Linked DNA regions of Homo sapiens: region 1 is linked to region 2. The links come from fine-mapping of genetic effects on gene expression. A gene starts in region 2. The other region holds a variant in brackets. All regions are shown on one strand. Distances are between the middles of the regions.

Region 1 (4,382 bases), 40 kb after region 2:
ACTCCTTCAATTCAGCATCCTAATACCCTGTGTATCCAGGGTTAAAGGCAGTAGGTTGTGGATATGTAAAATCTAGGACAGTTGTATAATTATTGCATTTCTGTTTTTTGTTTTGTGTTTTTTTGTTTTGTTTTGAGATGGATGGAGTCTCGCTCTGTCGCCAGGCTGGAGTGTAATGGTGCAGTCTTGGCCCACTGCAACCTCTGCCTCCCGGGCGCAAGCGATTCTCCTGCCTCAGCCTACCGAGTAGCTGGGACTACAGGCACGTGCCACCACACCTGGCTAATTTTTTTTTTTTTTTTTTTTTTTTTTTTTTTTTGTGACGGAGTCTCACTCTGTCGCCCAGGTTGGAGTGCAGTGGCATGATCTCGGCTCACTGCAAGTTCCACCTCCTGGGTTCATGCCATTCTCCTGCCTCAGCCTCCCGGTAGCTGGGACTACAGGCGCCCGCCACCACACTTGGCTAATTTTTTGTGTTTTTAGTAGAGACAGGGTTTCACAGTGTTAGCCAGGATGGTCTTGATCTCCTGACCTCATGATCCGCCCGCCTTGGCCTCCCAAAGTGCTGGGATTACAGGCATGAGCCGCCACACCTGGCTAATTTTTTGTATTTTTAGTAGAGACGGGGTTTCACTGTGTGAGCCAGGATGGCCTTGAACTCCCGACCTCAGGTGATCCGCCCACTTCAGCCTCCCAAAGTGCTGGGATTATAGGCGTGAGCCACCATGCCCAGCCTTTGTTTCTGAGACGAGTCTCACTCTGTCACCAGGCTGGAGTGCAGTGGCACGATCTTGGCTCCTGCAACCTCCGTCTCCTGGGCTCAAGCAATTCTCCTGCCTCAGCCTCCCTAGTACCTGGGATTACAGGCATGTGCCACCATGCCCAGCTAATTTTTCTATTTTTAGTAGAGATGGGCTTTCATCATGTTGGCCAGGCTGGTTGAGGTGACGAACTCCTGACCTCAAGTGATCCACCCATGTTGGCCTCCCAAAGTGCTGGGATAACAGGCGTGAGCCACCGCGCCTAATTATTGCATTTTTTTTTTTTTTTTTTTTTTTTTTGAGATGGAGTTTCGCTCATATTGCCCAGGCTGGAGTGCAATGGTGCGATCTCGGCTCACTGCAACCTGTGCCTCCTGGGTTCAAGCGATTCTCCTGCCTCAGCCTCCCGAGTAGCTGGGATTACAAGTATGCGCCACCATGCCTGGCTAATTTTGTACTTTTAGTAGAGACGGGTTTCTCCATGTTGGTCAGGCTGGTCTTGAACTCCTGACCTCAGGTGATCTGCCCACCTCGGCCTCCCAAAGTGCTGCGATTACAGGCGTGATCCACCGTGCCCAGCTAATTATTGCATTTTTAAGAGAAATGAATTAGTCGGCAATACTGATTGTTTCTCCTTTGAGAAGAGCTCTGTGCTGAGTATAAACCAGGGCTTTTAGCCTGGGTCTGTGAACTCCCTTTTATGCAAGATTTTGATTGAATGGTTGTATGGATAGTTTTCTGAATTGATTTTAATGTGTTAAATAATGACTGATATAAAGGAAAATATAGAAGTACCCTCAGTAAGCTTGTGTTAGAGGCTATAGAAACACAGCAGCAAAATACCTCTTGAAGAAAGTGAAGCGGAGTGCATGTCAGGGAATGTGCTGCTGAAGCACATAGAGGACCACCGCCAGGCTTCCTGTTTTCCCAGCAGTAGTAGCTTTCTCTGCCATTAACATTTTCATGGCAGCCTTTTCTTTTCTTCTTTTTTTT[TA/A]ATTTAATTTAATTAATTAATTTATTTATTTATTTTTTTGAGACAGAGTCTTGCTCTGTCACCCAAGCTGGAGTGCAGTAGCGTGATCTCAGCTCACTGCAACCTCCACCTCCTGGTTCCAAGCGATTCTCCTGCCTCAGCCTCCCGAGTAGCTGGAATTACAAGCGCTCGCCACCACGCCTGGCTAATTTTTTTGTATTTTTAGTAGAGACGGGGTTTTAGCATGTTGGCCAGGCTGGTCTCAAACTCCTGATCTCAGGTGACCTACCTGCCTTGGCTTCCCAAAGTACTGGGATTACAGGCGTTAGCCACCGCGCCCATCCCGGCTTTTTATATTCTTTTCAGTGGATCTATGTCACATTTCACTGTTGGCTGATTAGACAGAAGTAAGGTATTTTACCCCCCCATCCCACCCCCCACTGTTAAATTACAGGCACTTTACTCTCAGTTATGTTTAGCAGGCTGTTCAGCTGTTTGGTCAGCTTGAACCTTGGGCTTCCAACTCTGTTGCCCAGGCTGGAGTGCAGTTGTGCCATCACAGCTCACTGCAATCTCTGCCTCCCAGGCTCAAGTGATCCTCCCACTTCAGATTCCCAAGCTGATGGGACTACAGGCTTGTGCCACCATGCCTGGCTAATTTTTGTATTTTTTGTAAAGATGGTGTGTCACCATGTTGCCCAGGCTGGTCTTAAAGTCCTGTACTCAAGCAATCTGCCTGTCTCAGCCTCCGAAAGTGCTGGGATTGCAGGCGTGATCCCCGCCCAACATGCAACATGCTACAACCTGTCATTTGAAACTGTTTATATTGACAGAGATTATCTCTTCAGTGGGACTGCGCTAAGATTCTTTAACTTATATAATTTCTTGACTTCTTATGACAAAGAAAGCAAGTGCTTTATAAAACTATTCTGAGTTTATTTTCTTTTTTTTTTTTTTTTTGTGCCGATGGGGTTTCCTTATGTTGCCCAGGCTGGTCTCAAACTCCTGGGCTGAAGTGATCCTCCCACCTTGGCCCTACAAAATGCTGGGATTATAGGCATGAGGCACTGCACCCAACTTTATTTTTTTATTTTTTATTTTTTTTTGAGACAGAGTCTTGCTCTGTTGCCCAGGCTGGAATGCAGTGGCTGATCTCGGCTCACTGCAACCTTCGCCTCCTGGGTTCAAGCAATTCTTGTGCCTTAACCTCCCAAGTAGCTGGGACCACAGGTATGCACCACTACGCCCAGCAATTTTTGTATTTTTAGTAGAGACGGGGTTTCACCATGTTGGCCAGGCTGGCCTGGAACTTCTGACCTCAAGTGATGCACCCGCATTGGCCTCCCAAAGTGCTAGGATTATAGGCATGAGCCACCATGCTCATGTTAAGAGAATGACTGATATAAAGGGAAAAATAGAAGTGCCCTCAGTAAGCTTGTGTTTGAGGCTATAGAAACACAGCAGCAAAATACCTCTTGAAGAAAGTGAAGTGGAGTGCATATCAGGGAATGTGCTGCTGAAGCACATAGAGGACCACCGCCAGGCTTCCTGTTTTCCCCGCAGTGGTAGCTTTCTCTGCCATTAACATTTTCATGGCAGCCTTTTTCTTTACTTCTTTTTTTATTTCATTTCATTTAATTTCTTTTTTAATTTTTAAGACAGAGTCTTGCTCTGTCAACCAGGCTGGAGTGCAGTGGCGTGATCTCAGCTCACTGCAATCTCCACCTCCTGGTTCCAAGCGATTTCTCCTGCCTCAGCCTTCCGAGTAGCTGGAATTACAGGCGCTCGCCACCACGCCTGGCTAATTTTTTTGTATTTTTAGTAGAGACAGGGTTTTAGCATGTTGGCCAGGCTGGTCTCAAATTCCTGATCTCAGGTGACTTGCCTGCCTTGGCTTCCCAAAGTGCTGGGATTACAACACGTGTGTCTTAAAACAGTCTTTCCTCTTTCCACAACGCCTTACTGCCTTCTTTGAAATCACACTTATCACGTAATTTTTTAAGGGTTAGTCATTAAGAGTCTTTCTAGAAAGAAATCGTGTTCTCTTAGCCATACAGAGTTTGTTTTTGTTCTTGTTTTTTATTTGAGACGGAGTCTCGCACTGTCGCCAGGCTGGAGTGCAGTGGCGCAATCTCTGCTCACTGCAACCTCCACCTCCCGGGTTAAAGCGATTCTTCTGTCTCAGCCTCCCAAGTAGCTGGGACTACAGGCGTGCGCCACCACACCCAGCTAATTTTTGTATTTTTAGTAGGGATGGGGTTTCACCATGCTGGCCAAGATGGTCTTGATCTCTGACCTCATGATCTGCCCGCCTTGGCCTCCCAAAGTGCTGGGATTACAGGCATGAGCCACCATGCTTGGCTCTAATTTTTTTTTTTTTTTTTTTTTTTAAGAATATCATTGGCAGGGCCAGGCGCAATGGCTCACGCCTGTAATCCCAGCACTTTGGGAGGCTGAGGCGGGCAGATAACAAGGTCAGGAGATCGAGACCATCCTAGCTCACACAGTGAAACCCCGTCTCTACTAAAAATACAAAAAATTAGTCGGACGTTGTGGCGGGCGCCTGTAGTCCCAGCTACTTGGGAGGCTGAGGCAGGAGAATGGCGTGAACCCAGGAGGCGGAGCTTGCAGTGAGCCGAGATCCTGCC
Region 2 (4,382 bases):
CAAACAAATATAGATGCACATATATTTAATAAAGTTATTGAATAATCAGGTATGTCAATATATGTAAAGTGTTCAGGACTGGTGCAAAGAAAGAACTCAGGAAGTACTGGCTCTCATTAAGGCTATTTAGGAGAGATTAGAGCCATGCATCAAGAACAGAGATTCCAATACTCTGCCTTTTATCAGGCCCCTTCTGTACTCACTCATAACCCCTTGCTTTCTGAAGGCTCCCCACCTTTGCCCTCCCGTCCCCCAGAGCTGACCTCCTCTTGGTACCCACTCCACCAAGGCTGAGTAGTCTTCACTGCACTCCCCTGGGCTGGGAGTCTCTTACACCTGCAAGATACATCCCAGAGAGGCTGGGCATGGTCACTCATGCCTGTGGTCCCAGCACTTTGGGAGGCTGGGGCAGGCAGATCAGATCTTGAGGTCAGGAGTTTGAGACCAGCCTGGCCAAGATGGTGAAACCCCGTCTCTACTAAAAATACAAAAAAAAAATTTAGCCGGGCGTGGTGGTGCACACCTGCAGTCCCAGCTACTTGGGAGGCTGAGGCAGAAGAATCGCTTGAACCTGGGAGGTGGAGGTTGTAGTGAGCGGAGAGTGCGCCACTGCACTCCGGCCTGGGCAACAGAGCAAGCCTCCATCTCAAAAAAAAAAAAAAAAAAAAAAAAAAAAAAAATCCCAGAAAAAGGCCCCATCCATGGGCTGGATGCTCACTGCCTGGACTCCAGATAGCAGGTGCCTGTGATCCAAACCGAGGATGTTAGAGGGGCATACATACTGAAGCAGTGTCTGGTATCCATTCATTCATCAGATGTTTATTATGTGCCGGATATTGGAGTAAGTACTGAGAAGGCAGTGGGGAACAAAACGGAGCCCTGCCTTCATGGCTCTTACCATTTAGGCAACAACAGCAATAATAAGCAAGCAATGATTTAATTTTGAAAGGAAACCAGACCTGGTGGGTGACTTGGGACCCAGGAACCCAGGCATGATGCAGAGATGGGACGGAAAGGTTCTCAGGAGCCCCAGCCTGGGAGGGTGTTAGTTCCTCCGTGAGAGCTCTGCTACACCCAGCCTGGGGTGTGGGGAGGCCTCTGTGGGCACCTGAATCTTCACTCTAGATGCTAAGGTTATTCCGGGGTTGATTTGTTGTCTCTTGTTTCCACAAACAGCACAGTAGAGCCTCCTGCCTCCCTCCCTCCCCCACCTCTTCCAGACTGAGGCTATTTATTCCTAGTGACAAGCCTGAGGATCCCAGGGGGGGTGGCCTTAAGGACCTGGAGGGGCCTCGTGTCCCTAGCAGGCGCCAGTCCTCCCTCACGGACACAGGGAGGAAGCCAGAGGCTCAGACACCGCAGAGGTCCCCTCCCCTCTCCTCCACCACCCCTGAGGTGCCCCATCCTCTCACACTCCTCACACCCCACCCTAGAAGCCCAAAGATCATGGGGCCGAGGATTAGGGTCTCCCCCGGGCCTCAAAGGTCAAAACTATTCCTGGGCACTGCGGAAACCCAGGCAAGGCAGGACTTCTCAGTGTCAGGAGGCTGCTGGAAGTGGGGAGGTGGTTACCCCTGTTTTTGCTACTCAAAGTTGTGGAATAAAACCCTTTGGAGGTCAAGGCCCTATGGTGGGGAGGGGTCCTCTCTTCGTCCCATGTTTTCAGAGAACACCTTGGTGCCCGCTGACAGGCTCATGACAGCAGAGTCAAAACGTCCTCCTCCAGGCTGGATTAAGGCCGGGCTGAGTGTCACCCCTGGGGTAAGGTGAAGGGGTGGGGGGATCCGAGGAGGCCAGAGGACTCCCCCAGTGGACCATGGTCTGCGGGGTCTCGTGTCGCCGGCCTGAGATGGAATACAGCAGTCTCCCTCTGGCAGCTGGGGATGGGGGGTGGGAGGGGAGGAGAACAGAGGCTGCGGGGAGGGGACAGGGGCGGGGTCCCGGCCGCTTGAAGGTTGGGAGAGCCAGGTTAGGCCGGGCGGGAGGAGGGGGCCGGGCCGACTGGCGGCCGAAAGGGAGGTGGGGGCGGGGTCTGGCCCCCGCGGCGGGCTGGGGGGCCGGGGGCGGGGTCCGGGCGGGGCGGGCCCGCGCTCACTTCCTCGGGGAGGGGTTGGGGCCGCGCTCCCACTCGCCCACACGGTCCGTCTGCAGTCGGCAGCCTCGCCGGCAGCTCGCTCGGCCCCCGCTTGGCCCGGCCCGCAGGTAGGAGCCGCCGAGGGACGCGGCGCCCGGTTCCCGGCCCCGCCTGCGCCGCGCGCTCCCCGCTCCCGCCGCCCGCTTCGAGGTGAGCGCCCCGCCGACCCCGGCTCCCAGCCCTGGCGGTCCGCCCCCGCGCCCAGGCCGGGGAGCGAAGGGACCCGCGGAGGGCTGAGGCCAGCCGCGGCCCCGGTCCCCTGTACCCGCCGGGCTCTGGCCACGGGTGCCCGGGGCACGCCGAGCCCGGGACAGCGCCCGCCGGGACTGGACCCCTCCGGGCTATCGGGCGGGGCGGGGGCGGGGGCGGCAGCGAGAGTTGGGCGGGGGAGGGGGCTAAGTTTGAAATAGAAAAGCCGGAGAGAGACAGACAGACCGACCGACCAGAAGCGCTGGAGAAACTGAGGTTCTCGGAAAGCCCGGTGGAGCGAGAGACCGAGACAGGCAGGGACTCGAGGCACAGGAGGCTACCGAGACCACTGAAACAAGGACACACCGGGCGTACAGAGTTACTGGTGGACAGACCCGAGGCATGGGGGCCGTCCTAGGCTTTGTGGAGCATTTTCAGAAAAAGCATACGTGGGACCCCAGCGAACACATTCCCTAGGGCCCTTCCCCGGGCCTTGGAGGTGCCCTGAGGCTTGGGCGTCATTGGCCTCATGCTGAATCTGCTCTCTGAGGCCTGCAGAGACGCTCAGAGACTAGAGACAGAGACATTCAGGCGTGCAGAGGTGGCGAAAGAGACTTGGATGCAGAGACAGAGAAAGGGAGGTGGTGGGGATTGAGACATTCAGCCATGTAGACAAGAAGAGACCAAGACTTGAGATCCACAGAGGCATGGGCCCCCTGGGGGACAGCCAGTCAAGATACAGAGCCGTCCAAAACCTAAAGACAGAGACTGAAGTGTGCCCAGACACAGAGATGCTGAGTGAAGCAGAGACAGACACCAGAAACTGAGACTAAGTGGGGGCAGAGAGACCTAGGTGGTCTGACAGCTTCCAGGACAGCCCCTGACTTACCCGGGCCTGAACCATTGGGAGGTGAGGCTGTGGGGAAACAGAAACTCTGAGCCTACCGATCCCCCATGAGGCAGAGGCCCTGAGACAGTAAGTTCGAGATCAAGAAGAGCCCCACGCACACACACAGCCACCAAGACAGCCCCAACTTATTTTTGAACTCAAATCTTGGATGGGCTGCCTCAGCCCTGGGGGACCCAGGGTGAATGAACTGTTCCTCTCATGTCCCCAGAGCAGCTGCGGGATCTTGCTCCCCAACCCCCTTCCCTAAACTTCTCTGACTTCCAGGCCACATGGGGGAGAGCAGAGCTTGGGGTTGGTGCCCGGTAGCAGAGGGTGAGGGTTGAGGGAGTTGGATTTCTCCCCTTAAGTCTCCTGTCAGCTTCTAGAAGGTGGGGGAGGGGTCTGTTCTGATCCTGACTCACAGCTGTGGGACCTGGCCAGGGTCCTCCTGGACAGTGGGCATGTTGGGGGTGGGGGCAGAAGGATTGAATGGTTGGCATGGGGCATTGGAAAGGCTTCTGGGTGTCTTCCAATCACAGGGCTAGCAGCTGAGGAGAAGAGCCAGGCTCTGGTGCATCTCCTGTTCCCCTGCCCTTAAAAACTGACCACCCCCATGTCACCATCCGCTTCATCACCAGGGCAGCATTTTTAGGGAGAGGGAAGAGCTCTGGGCTGGGAGGCAGGGGACCTGGGTCCTGATCGGGACCTTGGGCATGAACCTGCTCTATTCCTGGCCTCCTTGTGCTCAGCTGTAAAATGGGGATGATACTCTGTCCTGCCTGCCTTTTGTGAGATCTGATGAGATTGTGGTGGGCATGGACTTTGTGAGTGGCAAAGCAGCATGCAGGTGTCTACATCCGTGGACCTGCATGAGAGATCTCAAGAGTTAAGCTTACTAGAGTCAGGCTGACCGGACTGAAGCGACCACTTTCCCCACTGGTGTCCTCAGCAAGCCCCATGGGCCTGGGGCCCCCTATTCTCTCCCTGGGCCTATGCTGAGAATGTCCAGGTCAAATTTCAGACCAGGCTGGGCACAGTGGCTCACGCCTGTAACCCCAGCACTTTGGAAGGCTGAGGCCAGAGGATCACTTGAAGCCAGGAGTTCAAGACCACCCTGGGCAACATAGTGAGAACCCCATCTCTACAAAAAATAGAAAAACCTAGCTGGGC

The links. PIP is the estimated chance that this variant, and not a neighbour inherited with it, causes the effect.
Region 1: its variant is the best candidate, but not a certain one, in a credible set for the expression of FHL3 in T cells (TOPMed, PIP 0.76).

What each region holds. Positions count from the first base shown.
Region 1 is chr1:37,963,615-37,967,996 of GRCh38, reverse strand. The region is part of intron 15 of SF3A3 (splicing factor 3a subunit 3); the gene reads left to right. Among named protein-coding and RNA genes, the nearest start is that of INPP5B, 19 kb to the right of the region's middle. The variant TA/A (reference allele first, on the strand shown) is at 1,755.
Region 2 is chr1:38,003,259-38,007,640 of GRCh38, reverse strand. FHL3 (four and a half LIM domains 3) reads left to right here and starts at 2,127. Exons shown (of 6, transcript NM_004468.5): 1 at 2,127-2,284. RefSeq lists silencers at 2,007-2,066, 2,097-2,456 and an enhancer at 3,309-4,117.